3 separate regions of the Homo sapiens genome follow, and regions 2 and 3 are each linked to region 1. Evidence: fine-mapped expression QTL. A gene starts in region 1. Each other region holds a variant in brackets. All regions are shown on one strand. Distances are between the middles of the regions.

The links. PIP is the estimated chance that this variant, and not a neighbour inherited with it, causes the effect. A credible set is the group of variants that fine-mapping cannot tell apart.
Region 2: its variant is the best candidate, but not a certain one, in a credible set for the expression of ALKBH5 in whole blood (INTERVAL, PIP 0.87).
Region 3: its variant is the best candidate, but not a certain one, in a credible set for the expression of ALKBH5 in whole blood (TOPMed, PIP 0.82).

What each region holds. Positions count from the first base shown.
Region 1 is chr17:18,181,292-18,187,570 of GRCh38, reverse strand. It overlaps ALKBH5 (alkB homolog 5, RNA demethylase), which reads right to left and starts at 3,743. Exons shown (of 4, transcript NM_017758.4): 1 at 2,558-3,743. The coding sequence starts at 3,327. RefSeq lists silencers at 1,593-1,642, 2,866-3,017, 3,176-3,265, 3,346-3,645, 5,782-6,076 and enhancers at 2,911-3,748, 3,856-4,095, 4,156-4,355.
Region 2 is chr17:18,242,447-18,248,725 of GRCh38, reverse strand. LLGL1 (LLGL scribble cell polarity complex component 1) reads right to left here. Exons shown (of 23, transcript NM_004140.4): 21 at 6,098-6,218; 22 at 5,904-5,983; 23 at 3,851-4,818. The coding sequence ends at 5,905. FLII (FLII actin remodeling protein) reads left to right here. Exons shown (of 30, transcript NM_002018.4): 18 at 5-176; 19 at 693-797; 20 at 878-1,069; 21 at 1,369-1,557; 22 at 1,674-1,813; 23 at 1,898-2,132; 24 at 2,264-2,418; 25 at 2,504-2,564; 26 at 2,664-2,792; 27 at 2,876-2,982; 28 at 3,066-3,171; 29 at 3,307-3,372; 30 at 3,454-3,911. The coding sequence ends at 3,588. Among named protein-coding and RNA genes, the nearest start is that of FLII, 13 kb to the left of the region's middle. RefSeq lists enhancers at 21-90, 70-619, 1,170-1,721. The variant G/A (reference allele first, on the strand shown) is at 3,506.
Region 3 is chr17:18,214,963-18,221,241 of GRCh38, reverse strand. No RefSeq gene overlaps it. Among named protein-coding and RNA genes, the nearest start is that of LLGL1, 7.5 kb to the left of the region's middle. RefSeq lists an enhancer at 3,562-3,661. The variant C/A (reference allele first, on the strand shown) is at 2,801.

The DNA.
Region 1 (6,279 bases):
CCTGCCTCGGCATTTGGCAGTGTCTGGACACTTTCTGGTTGTCATAAAAAACACTATTGGCACCTAGCAGATAGAAGCCAGGAATGCTGCTGAACAGTCTACAATGCACGAACAGCCTCAACAATGAAGCATTATCAAGCCCTGAATAACAATAGCACTGTTGAGAAGCCCTGATCTAGAGTTCACCAGAGCACCCTCAACCACAGTCTCTACTAATGAACTCCATCTGCCTCCCATCAACATCCACCCCCTCTTACCTATGGCTACTCCTGCTACTGCAGCCAAAGACACTGCTGTTGTGTATTTCTCCACCTTTCTCTGCTTGGCTCATTCCTAGTCACTTTTCACATTCCAGTTCATTTCCTCCCCTAAACTTCCAACACTCCAAAGTGGAAAAGATGTCCCCCTTCAGTGTGCTTCTGCAGTTACCTTCCTGGGCTATAACTTATCCTCCTGTCTGAGGCCTCCATGGGGCTTGAACTACACGAAGGGAAACTGTCATGTTTCAGGCTCCACCAAATCCCTAGTTCCTTCCCCAGTGAGAGAGCAGGGGATCACTGAGTGGTTGTATATGAAAGCAAGCACCCATTTAAGTACCTACCCTGTGCCAGGCCCTATCTTAGACAACAAATCACCACATTTAATTCTAATAGGCTTTGGAAGTTGGCATCATCCCCACTTACAGATGGGAAAGCCAGCTCAGAGAACGCCTACAAGATCCCAAAGCAAATGAGAGAAAAGCTGGATTCAAAGCCTGGGGCAGCACTTTTCAGGACATGGCTGAGCCTCCCACACTAACACCACAGCCAAGTCTGAATCCAGAAAGGGTTGACAGGGACTGGGAAAGCTTTAGGACTTTACTATTCTGAGGAAAAGATGAAGAGAATTTTCCTGATGATGCAATCCTGTTGCTGATCACTAACAGACCTGCATACTAAGAACTCGAAACTTCTGTTCTTAAAATACAGGGTGGGCATGTGTTAAGGAGAGTAGTAGTCCCAAAACCAAAAAAAAATGCCTTGTGATCCCCTCATTAAGCACCAGACCACTACTAGACCTCCTGACAACCACCCTGAGGGCCAATGACTACGCAGAAAATTAATATCCCGCTAAGAGACCAAATGGTCCTTGTGTGAGGTAATTTTTGCACTGAGAACCCGTCAATGGGGTCAGACCCCAACCTGCCTTACACAGCAAGCACCCGGAGAGGGTGTGTCCTGGAAATCCCATCTTAAAGCATTTTGCCAAGACATCCATCTAGGAGCGCCATGAAGATCTGAGAAGCTCAGAAGCCCATTATAAGAAGGCATCTGACAGCTAGGCTGTCCTCTAAGTTTCAGATGCCTAAAGAGCTAAAGTATCGCTTCTGCTACTACTGACTTCCCACCTTCCCACCAGGACGTCTTGGACATTACAAGGCTCTGCTGCCATCCCCAACATGGAAGCAGCCTCAGCTGTTAGACTCAAATGAAACAGATGACCTAATCTCATATCAAGAAGGCTCCAGGGACCCTGCTTCTCCTCATGACTTTGGCCCTACTGACTCACTTCAGAACCTGGGCTGCTCACGACAAAAGCCCAGTGTGTCCTCAACCTTGTATTTGGTGGTGGTCAACCAAGCTGCTCTGAGAACAGCTGCGGTCTAAACCTAAGATGTTTTGGGTATTACTGAATTACATTACTAGGTTTACCTTTTTCAGGACTGGAAGGAGGCCGCTTCCAAATAAATTTTCACTTCACATAAACAGCAAAGGTGTTCCCAATGGCAATCTCCTCTGGGGGCCAGGGCACTGAGCTAATTCTCAGCAGGATCTGGGAACCGAATATAGGCCAAAAGCCTAAGTTCTGCTGCTCACGCAACTGTAAGGCCAAACAGTCAAGAGACCAGCTGTATTCTGTTGTATTCAGTCCTGACTACAAGTAACACGTTCTTACAAAGAACTGATGGGCTCTTCTGCAGCCAGGAGGGAAGAATTTTAAGAGTGTGCTGCTCTGTATGCCTGGCCCAACCACTAATCTGTTCAACTCCAGGGAAGTCACTCCCCCTCCTGGGAATGGAGAATGTGCTTCAATTAAATAATCTCTGGGGCCTTTGCCTGTGACTACTTTCTCTGTTAAGGAATCCAAAAATGGCAGAACAAGAAAGACTTTTAGATAAATTAAAAAAAAAAAAAATTTTAAAGCATAGATTTGTAAATGGAAGGCCAGAATGGAAAACCGGAAAATCACAAAGGGACTTATGCTAAGAAATGGATGGTGGGAAAAAAAAAAATCAAAGGGAACAGCCTTCTGAAAAGATGGCTTTCGATGAATTCTCAGCCAAGTCAGTGATCCCGTCAAACCTGCCTTCGGGGACAGGATTTCCACATCGGTTCCCTATTTTCTTGCTATAGGTATCTTAAACACAAAACCCTTCTCTCGCTCCCTACAATCTACAAACAGAAGAACTGGTCAGAACTGTAAAAAACGCAGACTCCTACGGGCTGCTGCTTTCTGGGCCAGGGTGGGTAGCTAAGGCAGCAGGCGCAGGGCCGCCCCCTCCACCCGGGTGGGTTACCTGAGCACAGTCACGCTTCCCCTGCGCACCGGCAGGGAAAGCACTGGTTCCGACACCCGAATAGGCTTGAACTGGAACTTGCAGCCGAAGCACAGCGCAGAGTCGCTAAAGAAGGACACGGACACGATGGGGCGCTCGAAGATGTGGATGGGGTCCACGTGAGACACGATGCAGCCGCCGGGCTGGTAGTCGTTGATGACGGCGCTGTTGACGAAGCCCTCGGGGATGACGCGGTGCTCCACCAGCTTTTGGATCACCAGCTGGTGCACCCACTCGGGGATCTCGTCCACGTCGCCCGGCGGGTAGAGGCGCTCCTGGCCGGGCCCGCGCTTCTGCAGCTGGGCGCCGTAAGTGTAGCCTTCGCCGAAGAAGTACTTGTTGCGCAGTGGGGCCCGGTCCACCGTGTGCTCGTTGTACAGGCCCTTCTCAGCGCGGGACACCACCTCGTCAATGCGGGCCTCGATCTTGGCGCACTCGTCCTGGCTGAAGAGGCGCATCTGGCGGATGCCGCTCTTCACCTTGCGCGCCTCCTCCTCCTTCTGCAGCTGCTGCTCCTCATAGTCGCTGCGCTCGGGGTCCGAGTCCTCCTGATACTTGCGCTTGGCCCCGGACACAGGGTAAGGTTCGGCGGCAGCGGCGGCTGCGGCTGCGGCGGCTACGGCGGCTGCGGCAGCGGCGGCGGCCTCCCGGCTGCCCGCCTTATAGTTGTCCCGGGACGTCATGGACTTGAGCTTCTCACGCAGGTCCGTGTAGCCGCTGGCGGCCGCCATGGCCCCCACGACGCTGCTCTAGGGTCCTCCGGGGCGGGCGGGGCAGCCGGGCATGGCTCTAAGGGGACGCGCCCCGGGGCCCCCGGAGGGAGGGGGGTCCTTAGCGCCGAACCCCCATGCGTGAGTGGGGGACCCGGCGGGGGGCGTCGAGGGTCCGGGCGTGGGGTAGGGCCTCAGGAGCGGCGGGTCATGCAACGGTGGCGACAACGGGGCTTCTTCCTCCTCCACCTTCTCCACGTCCCGCGGGGCAGGGGCGCCGGCAGCGCCTCATGCCGCGGAGGGCTGCTGCGGAGACGCGGCCCGACTCCCGACCAGACCCTCGGACGCCCGGCCCGGCCCGCACTTTAAAGCTCTCCGCACGACGTCACGGGCAGCCAGCCCGACGTCCGCCAGCGCCGCTCCTTAGCGGGCTCCTCACCGCGCACGCGCAGTGCTGCCGGCCACCGCGGCTCCGCGCGCTACGGGCATGCGCGTGCGTGCAGGCCGGGTCGGCAGAGGCGCCGGCGCAAGCGCAGACAGGAACCGCTTGCCGTCCGCCGCCCCTCCCCCACTCTCTGAGGGGCTTCAAGGGAACGCTCTCAAATAGCAACCTGTCTTCACGCCGCGCCGCCTCCAGGACCGAAGGGCTCCCTCTACAGGGGTGCGCTCATATTGCCAACAGTGTCGCCGTGCCGCGTCACGGCATCGTCCGAACGCCCGCAGACGCCTCAACCCCAGGGCGCATTCACCAGGGAACCGCCACAACGTAGGCCGCTCCGTTACCTCCCCCTTTGGCGCTTCCACTTCTTTAATTGGGCCGTGGGCCACGCGCCGGGCAGGCCCTGACTGGAGTTTCCGGAAGTCGGTTGGTAATCATGCGTGTCAATCAGGCAGTCTCCTTAGCTACTGTGTCCGTCACTTAATTAGCGGCTGGGCGAGCAGCGAGGACCCCTAAAGGAGAAATGGGTGGTTAAATAAGTGCCTGAATGGAGACTCCACCTGAGTAAAGCCCTTAGAACGCCTAAGGAAACTTCTGAAACCCGCGAAAACTTCTCAGACTGCGGGACCTGCAGCACCCGGCCCCAGTTCTGAACCCAGATAGGAACGTCCGGCAGAAGCCAGACGCGCGTTGTCGGGGTACAAGCCAGCCTGCCGCCGCTGCCGCCGCCGCCCGGAGCGGACGTTTCACGAGTCACGTCCCGGTGACGGCGAGCGTGGGGGCGCGCTGGGGTTGGCGTCGAGCCTCCTTGGTGCTGGAGATGGGCGTGGGGGCACCTCCTACGGGGACTCTGGAAGAAAACTCCAGGAAACGAACGGGCGCAAGGCTAAGGCTAAGCTATAGATAATGACTACAGTCAATTCAAAAAAGTTTTGAAGCAGTCAGCAAAGGCGTTGCCGGGCGCGGGGCCTCACGCCTGTAATCCCAGCACTTTGCGAGGCCAAGGCGGGCGGATCACTTGAGCCCAGGAGTTTGAGACCAGCCTGGCCAACATGGCAACCCCATCTCTACAATAAAATTTTTAAAAATGAACTGGGCGTGGTGGCGCGCGCCTATGGTCCTAGCTACTCAGGAGGCTGAGGTGGGAGGATCCCTTGAGCCCAGGGGATTGAGGCTGCAGAGAGCCGAGCTGGCGCCACTGCACTCCGGCCTGGGCGACAGAGCTGCAAAACAAAACAAAAAGGCGTAGCCGTGCAGGATGCACTGGAGGGCTCCAACAAATGGGGGTCGGGGGGGATCTGCTGGAAAATCTCCCATGTCTCCCAGGATAAAGTTCCCCTGCTTTATTTGGCACTCAAAGCTTTTCTTCAAGACTCTTCTGGCCTTGGCTCCTCCTCTCCTCTCTTTCCATGTACACTGAGCCCCAGCCTGGTCCTCATCCTGTAAGCCAGGTCTACAAACATACTGTGTCTCACCTCCTGGCCTTTGCCCAGGCTGTTTGCCATGGCTGTTGCCCATGCCAGTTCCTTATCACCCGTCTCCCTCTCTCTCTCCCCCTTCCCCTCCTCCTCCTCGTTCTTTTTTGACAGAGTCTCTGTTGCCCAGGCTGAAGTGCAGTGGCACGATCTTGGCTGACTGCAATCTCGACCTCCCGGGTTCAAGACATCCTCCCACACCTCAGCCTCCTGAGTAGCTGGAACTATGTAGAGGCGTGTACCACCACACCCCGCTAATTTTTCTGTTTTTAGCAGAGATGGGGTTTCACCATGTTGTCAAATTGGTCTTGGAACTACTGGGCACAAGATCCTCCTGCCTCGGCCTCCCAAAGTGCTGGGATTACAGGCGTAAGCCACTGCGCCCAGCCTGGAATGGACATTTTTTTAAAAAGCTTATCAAGTTTTTACTATGTGCCAGGACCTGTGCATATACTAGCCCAATTAATCGTCCAAACAATTCAATGAGGAGGGCATTATTATTATTACCATTGTATATATAGGGAAACAGGCCCAGAGAGGTGAAATGACTTGCCCAAGGCCATACAGCGAGTATGTGGCCTAGTGATGATTCAAACCCAGGCTGCCTGGTTCCAGAATCTGTGCTGTCCCTCACCGGGGCTCCGAGAGGGGAGAGTCCTAGCTCAAGAGCAGTCAGGGAGGAACACAGGGAAGCTTCCAATGCAGTGTCCGTTATGGGAGAGGCTGTGTCAACCTAGAGAAGAGGTGATTCACATTTTGGCTCAACCTGGATGATCTACTTCCAAGAAGCCGCTTGTAGTCTGTGTGGGAGGCCCCAGTTGTATTCTGAAAGCCAAAAGGGCCCCCTCGTTTTCACTCTGCCACATCATCCCTTCCTGAGCCTCATAGTTCAGCTTGACTAGGGAAAAGGTTTTGGGGCAAAAGAATTAGCCTGACACCCCCTCCCCCTCACACACACCATGTATGATCTCACAACAATGAGAAATGAGGGGCAGAGGGCAGGCCTCAGGGCTGCCTCATGTTGGAGCCCACTGTGCTCTGTTTTGGGGGTCCCTATAC
Region 2 (6,279 bases), 61 kb before region 1:
TCAGGCTCTTTGCAGAGAAAATTAACAAGAATGAGCGGAAAGGGAAGGCTGAGATCACACTGCTGGTGCAGGGCCAGGAGCTCCCAGAGTTCTGGGAGGCACTGGGTGGGGAGCCCTCTGAGATCAAGAAGCACGTGCCTGAAGACTTCTGGCCGCCGCAGCCCAAGCTGTACAAGGTGAGCCCTGCTGCTGAGGCCCACCTTGGCCTCCCAAGTTCACCCACCGACTGGGGGAATGGACTACACACCGATGTAGTTGGCTTTGGGCTCCATCTCGACTTTGGTGGGGAGAGGGTGCCACCTTCTGGACAAGGAACAGTATGAGCAAAGGTCTGGAGGCTGCTTTTGAGAAGTAGCCTCACGGAGTCTTTCCAGGATGGTGGGGCCGTAGGGGAGACAGAAGCACCTAGTGCCAGGGCTGGGAACCTTGGCTCAATTATCTAGATTCTTGTGAACAGGAAAGGGACACGTTAATTAGAAATGGCATGAAGGGCCTGGAGAGGGCAGGCAGGGAAAACTCCATTTAAAAGCCCTTCTGAAAGGATATCCCTAAAAAGACCTTGAAGGGGAGGGGGAAACAGAAGCAGTCAGTGAGCCACGCTGCAGGGCAGGGCTGGTTCCAGAGCAGAGGGCTGTGTGGGTGAGGTTCCTGTCTCCAGATCCCTTCCCTGCCATGCTCATCCTTCCTGCCAGGTGGGCCTGGGCTTGGGCTACCTGGAGCTGCCACAGATCAACTACAAGCTCTCCGTGGAACATAAGCAGCGTCCCAAGGTGGAGCTGATGCCAAGAATGCGGCTGGTAAGAGATGCAGGAGGAGGGCGTGGGGCCAGATCCCTCCCCGTTGGCTGGGCTTTGACCTCCAGACTCCCGGTCCGCAGCTGCAGAGTCTGCTGGACACGCGCTGCGTGTACATTCTGGACTGTTGGTCCGACGTGTTCATCTGGCTCGGCCGCAAGTCCCCGCGCCTGGTGCGCGCTGCCGCCCTCAAGCTGGGTCAGGAGCTGTGCGGGATGCTGCACCGGCCACGCCATGCCACGGTCAGCCGCAGCCTCGAGGGCACCGAGGCGCAGGTGCGCTTGCAGCTTCGGAGGCCCCTCCCCAGGATCCTTCGCACCCTGACATGCCCTGACCCCTGTGGCTTCACTACCTCCCTACAGAGCTGGGCCCAAACCCACCTCCTCTTTGCTGACTCTGCCCAGGCCCCGCCCCCTCTGCAAGCTGCCCCTCCTATTCCTACCTCCGTGTCCGAGGCCCCGCCTCCCAAGCCCCGCCCTAGATCTCCCTTGGGTCCCGCCTCAAGCCTCGGGCTACTTCCTCCAACTCTAATCATGCCGCACCCCTCATGGTTAGTTGATGGCCTCCCTGGCAGGTGTTCAAGGCCAAGTTCAAGAATTGGGACGATGTGTTGACGGTGGACTACACACGCAATGCGGAGGCCGTGCTGCAGAGCCCGGGTCTCTCCGGGAAGGTGAAACGCGACGCCGAGAAGAAAGACCAGATGAAGGCTGACCTCACTGCGCTTTTCCTGCCGCGGCAGCCGCCCATGTCGCTGGCCGAGGTGGGGGCAGGGCCGGGACCGGGGCGCGGGGGGGGGGGTGGGGGGCAGGCCGAGGGCGGGGCCTATGCGCAGAGCGCGCTCAGACCTGCCGCGGGGCGGGTCCCTCTCACCTGCAGGCGGAGCAGCTGATGGAGGAGTGGAACGAAGACCTAGACGGCATGGAGGGTTTCGTGCTGGAGGGCAAGAAGTTTGCGCGGCTGCCGGAAGAGGAGTTTGGCCACTTCTACACGCAGGACTGCTACGTCTTCCTCTGCAGGTACCACCTCAGCACTCCCTTCCCCAAGTCCCTCCCCTGGTGCTGGGGGCTCGAGCCCCTGCTCACAACCTTCCAACCCGGCAGGTACTGGGTGCCTGTGGAGTACGAGGAGGAGGAAAAGAAGGAAGACAAGGAGGAGAAGGCCGAGGGCAAAGAAGGCGAGGAAGCAACCGCTGAGGCAGAGGAGAAGCAGCCAGAGGAGGACTTCCAGTGCATCGTGTACTTCTGGCAGGGCCGTGAAGCCTCCAATATGGGCTGGCTCACCTTCACCTTCAGCCTGCAAAAGAAGTTCGAGAGCCTCTTCCCTGGGAAGCTGGAGGTGTGCCTGGCAGCCCCGCGAGCCCGAGGCCAGGCGGAGGGGTGTGGTGGGGCTCAGACCCAGCGAAGGTTAGGCTCCCGAGGGGCAGGTGGGGGTCCAGGGAGCTGCCCCTAACACTTCCACATCCCCAGGTGGTACGCATGACGCAGCAGCAGGAGAACCCCAAGTTCCTGTCCCATTTCAAGAGGAAGTTCATCATCCACCGGGGCAAGAGGAAGGCGGTCCAGGGCGCCCAACAGCCCAGCCTCTACCAGATCCGCACCAACGGCAGCGCCCTCTGCACCCGGTGCCTGGCTGGGGGAGGACGCAGTGGCGAGCAAGCGTCAGGGAGCCAGGCCTGAATCCTTGCTGATGCCCCATCCCTTCCACAGGTGCATCCAGATCAACACCGACTCCAGCCTCCTCAACTCCGAGTTCTGCTTCATCCTCAAGGTGGGGTTGTGGGTGTGAGCCAGGACTCCGTGGACCAAGGGGTGGGGTGTTTGGGGGCTGAGTCAGCTGCGAACACCCCCACCCCTGCACACTCCCCAGGTTCCCTTTGAGAGTGAGGACAACCAGGGCATCGTGTATGCCTGGGTGGGCCGGGCATCAGACCCTGACGAAGCCAAGTTGGCAGAAGACATCCTGAACACCATGTTTGACACCTCCTACAGCAAGCAGGTCAGGAGGCGGGCGGGCAGGCGGGCACACACAGAGGAGCCAGGGCAGGCAGGGGCCCTGGGCTGGACTGGCCTTTCCCGCAGGTTATCAACGAAGGTGAGGAGCCTGAGAACTTCTTCTGGGTGGGCATTGGGGCACAGAAGCCCTATGATGACGATGCCGAGTACATGAAACACACACGTCTCTTCCGGTGAGGCCAGGGCCCTGACCCTCCCCTCAGTCCTGGCACTGCTGCTTATGACCTCTGGCCTCACCTTGACCCTTGATTCCCAGGTGCTCCAACGAGAAGGGCTACTTTGCAGTGACTGAGAAATGCTCCGACTTTTGCCAAGATGACCTGGCAGATGATGACATCATGTTGCTAGACAATGGCCAAGAGGTGTGATGTTGCCACTAGCCCTGCCCATCCAAGGAGGCGCCCATAGACTTACTTACAAATGGGAATTCTCGGGCCAGGAGCAAGGGGCTGTTCCCAGGCACCCATGCAACCGTATCTCCCCTGCTGCCCCCACAGGTCTACATGTGGGTGGGGACCCAGACTAGCCAGGTGGAGATCAAGCTGAGCCTGAAGGCCTGCCAGGTAATCTGGGTGGAGGGAGGGCCGAGGTGGGCCTGTGGGCAGGGCAGGGTCATCACCCAAGGCTCGCTGTCCCCTTGCCAGGTATATATCCAGCACATGCGGTCCAAGGAACATGAGCGGCCGCGCCGGCTGC[G/A]CCTGGTCCGCAAGGGCAATGAGCAGCACGCCTTTACCCGCTGCTTCCACGCCTGGAGCGCCTTCTGCAAGGCCCTGGCCTAAGACAGGCTGGCACAGCCCCAGGCTTGGTGAGGAAGAGGAAGGGGCCTCATCCACTGTCTGCTAGCAAAGAATGTACTCAGGTGACACCACCTGCTCCAGCCACGTCCAGTGCCACAGTCCCCAGTAGCCTCAAGCAGCACCAATGGGGATGACCCTGACAGGTGCCCTCAGGGGTCTGGGAAATCCAACTCTCTCCACAGTGTGAGTGCACGTGTGAAGCCCCCTCACTCTTCCGCTAGGGATAAAGCAGATGTGGATGCCCTTTAAGAGATATTAAATGCTTTTATTTTCAATATTAAAAATCAGTATTTTTAATATTAAAATGGCGCTAATTTTAACAAAACGACAGAAAAAAACCCCAAGGTACAATCTACAGGGAAACTCATCTTGACCCCCCCCCCTGCCCCCCCCCCCCGCCGGACACACACACCTGACTAGGCCCCAGATGTGGGTGCCCAGCAGAGCTCCCAGTCACATCCATGCCCGCACACACACACTCATGACAGGCTGGGGACTGGCCCAGAAGCAGGTACCAAAATAGTTTAGTTTTAGAAACAACTGTCCAGCCCAGGCGCTAGAAAAATACTCTTTGCAGGGCTGGGCATGGTGGCTCACGCCTGTAATCCCAGCACTTTGGGAGGCTGAGGTGGGTGGATCACGAGGTCAGGAGATCGAGACCATCCTGGCTAACATGGTGAAACCCCATCTCTACTAAAAATACAGAAAAAATTAGCTGGGCGTGGTGGTGGGCGCCTGTAGTCCCAGCTACTTGGGAGGCTGAGGCAGAAGAATGGCGGGAACCCAGAAGGCGGGGCTTGCAGTGAGCAGAGATGGGGCCACTGCACTCCAGCCTGGGCGACAGAGCAAGACTCCGTCTTTAAGAAAAAAAAAAAAAAGGAAAAATACTCTGCAAAGTGAGGGGGAAGGATGGTGTGTGGAGGGGGGGAGGTGGCACAGGTGCTGGGCCCCACCTGTCCTCTTCCCTAGGCAGTGGGCCCCCAGGGCAGCCAAATGCCTGCAGGAGGGCTCAGTTCTGGCCCAGGTCCCAGGCCCACACCCTGGGGCTGGTGCTGCTCCAGGGCCCAGGGTCAGGCGGGACAGGACAGCAGGTCCCAGTGGAGCCTACAGGTTAGCAGGCGTGGTTCTATGTTAAGGGGCCAGGCAGGTGCCAGGGATCCAGCACTCCAGCTCCGAGCAGGGCAGGTGGAGGTCGGGATAGTTCTGGCCTTCCTGGAAGAGGGAGAGAAGAGGTATCAGCAGAAGGTGAGGGAGGGCAAAAGGGCAGATGGATTGCCACAGCGGCCAGACCACACAGGTGCTGCCACTGTCTCCTCTGCAGGGCAGGCATGGCCCTTCAGTGACCACCTGAGATGGGCTTGCTGAGTCTCCAGATGGGTATCCAAGCGCCAGGCCACATATGCCCCACTGAGGCCAGGGAGAGGCACCAGACAAAGAGCTGGGAGGTGTCCATGTCCTGTGCAGGGTGAGGCTATGGCCTACAGTCAGGTGCCTGGGAACATGAGGCAGCAAATGCGCTGGGCAGATCTATGGGCCCCACATCTAGGTGAGGATCCACAGACTCAGGCAGGGGTAAGTCAGCCACTTGCTGGGCCCAACCGATGAGACCTGACCTCGTGCACCTCAGTGATCTCATCTATGAAACAGGCTGGCCAAACCAGCTCCCAAGCCCCAAACTACTGCCACCTCTAAGTGGTTTAATCTGGTCTTGTTGGCCGGGTGCGGTGGCTCACGCCTGTAATCCCAGGACTTAGGGAGGCCGAGGCGGGTGGATCATGAGGTCAGGAGATCGAGACCATCCTGGCTAACACAGTGAAACCCCGTCTCTACTAAAAACACAAAAAATTAGCTGGGTGTGGTGGCGGGCGCCTGTAGTCCCAGCTGCTCAGGAGGCTGAGGCAGGAGAATGGCATGAACCCAGGAGGCAGAGGTTGCAGTGAGCCAAGATCACGCCACTGCACTCCAGCCTGGGCGACAGAGCAAGACTCCGTCTCAAAAACAAAACAAAACAAAACAAAACAAAACAAATCTGGTCTTGTCCTAACCACCACCTGTCACATGCAAGGGCTGAGGGGCTGGCCCTGCTTTTCTAATACCCAACCATGACACTGGTGTCTGTGTGAGCACCAGAAGTCCCCAATTGAGGCACTCCATGGAAGGCAGCCAGGTTTCAGAGAGTGCCATCACATGGGCCTGCCAGGGTCTCAGGTAGAAGACCAGGGCCAAATGGTACCCAGACGGGCTGAAGGGGGTGGACGTCACCAGTGGTGAGGACCAGGGCCCCACCCCTGCAGCACCTCATTTGATCAGGATGGCACAGGCGTGGGCCTCGTCTTCTGCCAGGTTCCTCAGGTTCTTCTCTGACTCCTCAGAGGAGCTGCGAGATGGGGATGGTGCTCAGGGGTGGGGGCGGGGGAGCCCCTGGCAGCCCTGGGGACGGAGGCCTAGGGGACAGGGCAGCCCCCCCTGTGGACCTGCCCACCAGCCTCACCCCAGGAAATCCTTCACATCTTCCACTGTGACGTCCCCTGTCGTGTCCAGCGTGGTGTCAGCACTGGTGGCTGAGTCGATGGACATGGGTGAGAGTGCAGCCTCGGGTGGCTCCGGGGTGTCTACAGGGAGCAAGTCATCAGCCCCTACCAGGACCCTTAGCACCCTCTGCACCTGGGGGCC
Region 3 (6,279 bases), 34 kb before region 1:
GCAGGAGGGTTCCTGAGTCAGCAGCACTGGCAGGGGAAGCTGGTTCTTCCTTCAGCCTCCCAGCCTCAGGTCAATCTCAGGCTAGGGGGGGGCTGCCTTCTCGGCATTTCCTTGGTGGGGTGTCCCCCTCCTCTCACCTCCTCCTAGGCTCCCATAGGGCTCTCACCCAGCTCTGGAGTCCGCCTTCAAATCCCAAGACATCCCCTTGCTCATTGGGTGACCTCAGCTAAACCATGAGTCCACCCTGGGCCTCAATTTCCTCATCTGTAAAATGCAGTAAGGACTAAATGAGATGACTCAAAACAAGATTTGAGGCCGGGCGCGGTGACTCACGCCTGTAATCCCAGCACTTTGGGAGGCCGAGGAGGGCAGATCACGAGGTCAGGAGATAAAGACCATCCTGGCTAACACGGTGAAAACCCATCTCTACTAAAAATACAAAAAATTAGCCGGGCGTGATGGCACAGACCTGTAGTCCCAGCTACTTGGCAGGCTGAGGCAGGAGAATCACTTGAACCCAGGAGGCAGCAGTTGCAGTGAGCCGAGATCAGTGCCACTGCACTCCGGCCTGGGCGACAGAGCGAGACTCTGTCTCAAAAAAAGAGTTGAGCACAGGACCCAGCAGGGTTTGTTCCTAGTGAACCAGCTGTGCCTAGAATAGCGCCTGGCACATAATTAATGCTCGACACATTTAAAACAACAGATTAAAGCCGGGCACAGTGGCTCACGCCTGTAATCCCAGCACTTTGGGAGGCTGAAGCAGGTGGAATACGAGGTCAGGAATTCGAGACTAGCCTGACCAACATGGTGAAACCTCATCTCTACTAAAAATACAAAAAAAAAAAAACATTAGTCAGGTGTGATGGTGCATACCTGTAATGCTCAGGAGGCTGAGGCAGGAGAATCACTTGAACCCAGGAGGCAGAGGTTGCAGTAAGCTGAGATCACGCCACTGCACTCCAGCCTGGGTGACAGAGTGAGACTCCGTCTCAAAGAAAACAATTTTAAAAAATAGATTAAAGATCTGAGGCCGGGCACGGTGGTTCACACCTGTAATCCCAGCACTTTGGGAGGCCAAGGTGGGCAGATCACTTGAGGCCAGGAGTTTGAGTCCAGCCTGGCCAATATGGTGAAACGCTGTCTCTACTAAAAATACAAAAATTGCCGGGCCCACTCGCTCACGCCTGTAATCCCAGCACTTTTGGAGGCCAAGGCTGGTGGATCACCTGAGGTTGGGATATCGAGACCATCCCGGCTAACACGGTGAAACCCTGTCTCTACTAAAAATACAAAAAATTAGCCAGGTGTATGGCACATGCCTGTAATCCCAGCTACCCTGGAGGCAGAGGCAGGAGAATTGCATGAACCTAGGAGGCAGAGGTTGCAGTGAGCCAAGATATTGCACTCCAGCCTCGGCAACATGAGTGAAACTCCATTTCAAAAAATAAATAAATAACAAAATAAATAAAAATAAAAATATAAAAATTAGCCAGGTGTGGTGGCGCATGCATGTAATTCCAGCTACTTGAGAGACTGAGGCAGGAGAATCGCTTGAACCCGGGAGGCGGAGGTTGTAGTGAGCCAAGATCGCACCACTGCACTCCAGATTGGGCAAGAGTGAGACGCTGTCTCAAAAAAAAAAAAAGAAAACAAACAAAAACAACAACAAATAATCCATACTGTTCAGGAGTTAAGTCCACAGAAGTGGCGGTTTGGTGGTTGATGGGATGTAAGTAGGCAGGTAGGTGAACAGGATGGCATGCATTGAAGGTGTCTTCGGACGTAGGTGCCCCAGTAAAGGCTATATCTGTGCATATCTCCCTGAATCCTCATAGATACCAGAACAACCCTGTTTTATAGACAGTAAATGGAAGATACGTGTAGAGAAGTGACTTGGTCACTCCTCTGCAGAGGGAAAGAGAAAGGGTGATCTCAGGGAGCGACAAGTGGGGAAGCTCCAAGGGAGGTAGATTAGGGTCAGTAAGGAAGTGGGAGGAAAACCAAGAGTCTGACTGAAGAAGGCAGGCCCTGGCTTTCAGAAGCTGGCCCAGATCCCAGCTGAGGCCATGACCCTCTCGAGCTGCCCAAACCACGGACTCAACTTCTTCCTAGTGGCTCCTGGGGGGCCAGATCTGGCAGGCTGGAAAATTCCTGGAGTGGTCTAGGTTGGGACAGAGCTAGGCAGGGCCCAGGATGGAAGGAGAGAGATGAGGGAGTGGGAGAAAGGGTGGGCTTACTGAGACTCCAAGACAGGGTCAGCAGACCAGCCCAAGCCAGGGAGGAGTGAATACCTCATCCCATGTGGTATGCAAATGAAGCTGAAGCTTAATAAGGTCTTGTGTCCTTTAGGTCCAGACAGAAGGGAGCAATGGATTTAGGGCCTCCTCAATCTACAGAGAGTGAATAGTGTTGTGTGCCTCCATGAAAGAAAGGCCAGACAGGTAGGGGGAGTGTTGGGGCTGACCTACTCTGTCCTTGTTTTATACAAGGGAGGAAGCTGAGGTTCAGAGAAGTGACCTGCCCAAGGTGACAGGTGAATAATATATGAGTCCCTGGACCTCTAACCGAGTGCTCCTTCTCTGGAGGCAGGACTCTCAGCCCTGACACTCGCTGAGCCTGGATCCTGAGTATGCTTTTCTTGGCTCATGCTGGGCTACAGGAACGGGGATCTGGGCACACCTGCTCCCTGCAAGGACTGTCAGGATTGAGGCCCAAGGGGCTGGGTATGTGGACATTACCACAGACCTGTTGGAAGGTGGGGCTTTGTGTTTCACTTCTCTCTGGTGCCCCAAGTGCTAAT[C/A]CTGCCTCTGCCACTTTCCCTCTCTGGGCCTGTTTTCTCATCTGCGAAATGCGGGCTAATATTAATTGCTACCATTTATTAACACTGAGCACTTAGTCTGTGCCAGGCACTAGTTATTCCTTTAATCTTATGCCCATTTTACAAAGGAAGAAACTGAGGCCAGAGAGGTTAACTTGCCCAAAGTCACACAGCTAGTATATTGCAGAATCAGGATGTAAACCTAGTCCCCTCATGACGTCTCAGAGGTTGCAGCGAGAATTAAATGAGACAGTAAGTTAATGGCCTCACTCAATGAGAGTGCAGGAGAAGGTGGGAGTTAGGGCCCTGTTTCCCAGCCTGGAGTGGAAACACTGGGACCACAGAGTACACTCTAGGCAGTGCCAAAGGAGGCCCCGGTCTGGGTGGGGGAGCCCAAAGGCACCCCTGAAAAGCCTGGGAGGGGGCCAGAGAAGGTAGCATGGAAGAGAGCTGCCTGAGGCAGAGTACTGGCACTTGCAAAGATGTCTAGAACTCTCCAAGGAGCTGGGGCCAAGAGAGGTAGCGTGGGGCCCAGGCTGGGACTGCTGTTATGTGTGGCCTGGGGGTGGACCTGATGGCATCTGCTTGACCCACAGGTCCCAGTGCCCCTCCACACCTACTAGGATTAGTAAGGAAGTGGGAGGAAAACCCTACTAGCCCTGAGATCCCTGGCTGAGAAGGGCAGAAGCAGTGGGGAACCTAAGTTATTGGCTCTGAGTAACCTCTGGCAGGTTCGGGGGTCTCTGGGGACCTCAGTTCCCCATCCAAACCAAGGGACAGCTGCTGGCCCTTGCCCTCTACTCTGAAGCACCATCACTCAGGCTATGCTGCCACACTGTGGACACAGGAGGAACTGCGGCAGCAAGCGCCTCACACCTAACTGGAGGACCCCAGCCCTGACACTGCCCGAGCCCTTAGTTTTCCATCTCTCACAAAGACAGTGGATTTTCTTTTTTCTTTTCTTTCTTTTTTTTTTTTTTGGGGGGGGGGACGGAGTCTCACTTTGTCACCCAGGCTGGAGTGCAATGGCGCGATCTCGGCTCACTGCAACCTCCGCCTCCCGGGTTCAAGCGATTCTCCTGCCTCAGCTTCCCAAGTAGCTGGGATTACAGGTGCCTGCCACCATGCCCGGCTAATTTTTTTTGTATTTTTAGTAGAGACAGGGTTTCACCAGGTTGGCCAGGATGGTCTCGATATCTTGACCTCGTGATCCGCCCACCTCGGTCTCCCAAAGTGCTGGGATTACAGGTGTAAGCCACCGTGCCAGGCCTTCCTTTCTTTCCTTTTCTTTTCTTTCTCTTTCTCTTCTTTTCTTTCTTCTTTTCTCTCTCTCTCCTCTTTCTCTCTCCTCTCTCTTTTAGACAGTTTCACTCTTGTCGTCCAGGCTGGAGTGCAATGGCACGATCACAGCTCACTGCAACCTCTGCCTCCCGGGTTCAAACAATTCTCCTGCCTCAGCCTTCCGAGCAGCTGGGATTACAGGCGCCCACCACCAGGCTGGCTAATTTTTGTATTTTCAGTAGACACAGGGTTTCACCATGTTGGCCAGGCTAGTTTTGAACTCCTGACCTCAGGTGATCCACCCACCTCAGCCTCCCAAAGTGCTGGAACTACAGGCGTGAGCCACTGCACTCAGCTAAGAAAGTGGTTTTCTTATTGATTTTGACAGTCCTCTGCACAGCAGCACCAGTGATCCTACATCTGTTCACATCACTCCTCTGCTCAAACTCTCTATGGGAATCTAGTGGTGTGCTGGAGCCCTCTGCAAGAGCCAAATGGCAAATTTTCAAGAACTTTTGTGAGTCAGTTGTTAAAGTCATTAAAAATTAATTATATAAAATTAAAATTACACTAAAAACTAAGGGTAATATTAAAAACTAAGCATTTCCTACTTATTTTGCCACATTTTCCTATTATCTGTACTCTTGGATTACATCTATTGTATCTGTATGGTGGAAACACTATATATTGGGGTGTTACTGCACATTTCTTCACAGCTCGATGTTCAGTGACCTTACCTTGATCAGCTGCAATCAGCCATGATAACCCCTGGACTTAAGCAATCCTCCCGCTTAGCCTCCTGAGTAGCTGGGAATACAGGGTGTGCTGCTGTGCCCAGCTCTATAGTTTTCTAGACCAGTACCATCCAACAGAAATATAATGCAAGACACATATGTAATTTTCATTATTGAGTACCCAGATATAACAGTAACAGAAAACAGGTGAAATTAATTTAAATAGCTTTTTTTTTTTTTTTTTTTTGAGACAGAGTCTGGCTCTGTTGCCCAGGCTGGAGTGCAATGGCACGGTCTCGGGCTCACTGCAACCTCCGCCTCCCAGGTTCAAGCAATTCTCCTGCCTCAGCCTATTTTATTTAACCCAGTATGTCCAAATTTAACATATGTCCAAAATAGTTTTTTTTTTCTTCTTTTTTGGGGGGGTTTTGAGACAAAGTCTCGCTCTCTCACCCAGGCTGTAGTGGCACGATCTTGGCTCGCTGCAATCTCTGCCTCCTAGGTGCAAGCCTGCCTCAGCCTCCCAAGTAGCTGGGATTACAGGCGAGCGCCACCACACCTAATTTTTGTGTTTTTAGTAGAGACGGGGTTTTGCCATTTGGTCAGGCTGCTCTCAAACTCCTGACTTCAAGTAATCCATCCACCATAGCTTCCCAAAGTGATGGGATTATACGTAGGCCACCATGCCCAGCTCAAAATAGTATCTTCAACAAGTAATCAATATAAAGTTCTTAATGATTTACATTGTTTTTTTCATACTAACTCTTCAAATTCTGGTATTTTACACTAAAAGCACATTTCAATTCAAACTAGCCACATTTCAAATACTCAATAGCCAAGTATCAGTGGCTGCTGTACTGAAGAACACAGGTCTAGATTTAAGAAAGTGATGAAGAGGGCCGGATGTGGTGGTTCACGCCTGTAATCCCAGCACTTTGAGAGGCCGAGGTGGGCAGATCACCAGGTCAGGAGATCAAGACCATCCTGGCTAACACGGTGAAACCCTGTCTCTACTAAAAAATACAAAAAATTAGCCAGGCGTGGTGGCGGGTAGTCCCAGCTACTCAGGAGGCTGAGGCAGGAGAATGGCATGAACTCGGGAGGCAGAGCTTGCAGAGAGCCGAGATCATGCCACCGTACTCCAGCCTGGGCGGCAGAGCAAGACTCCGTCTCAAAAAAAAGAGAAAGTGAAGGAAAATATTAATGATTCAGATTAAATTTAAAAGTACTGCTATAGCTGAGAAATTTTAATCCAACTAATATTTGAGGATGAGAAAGCAGATGATATATCAGATTTAATGGCAATAACTTTACTGGGAGAAGGGCATGTAGGGGCTGATCCATGGCCTCCACAAATATCGGGTCATTATCCCTGGGACCTGTGAATGTCACCTCATAAGGAAAAAGGGTCTTTCGAATATAATTAAACATCATTACATAGGGGAC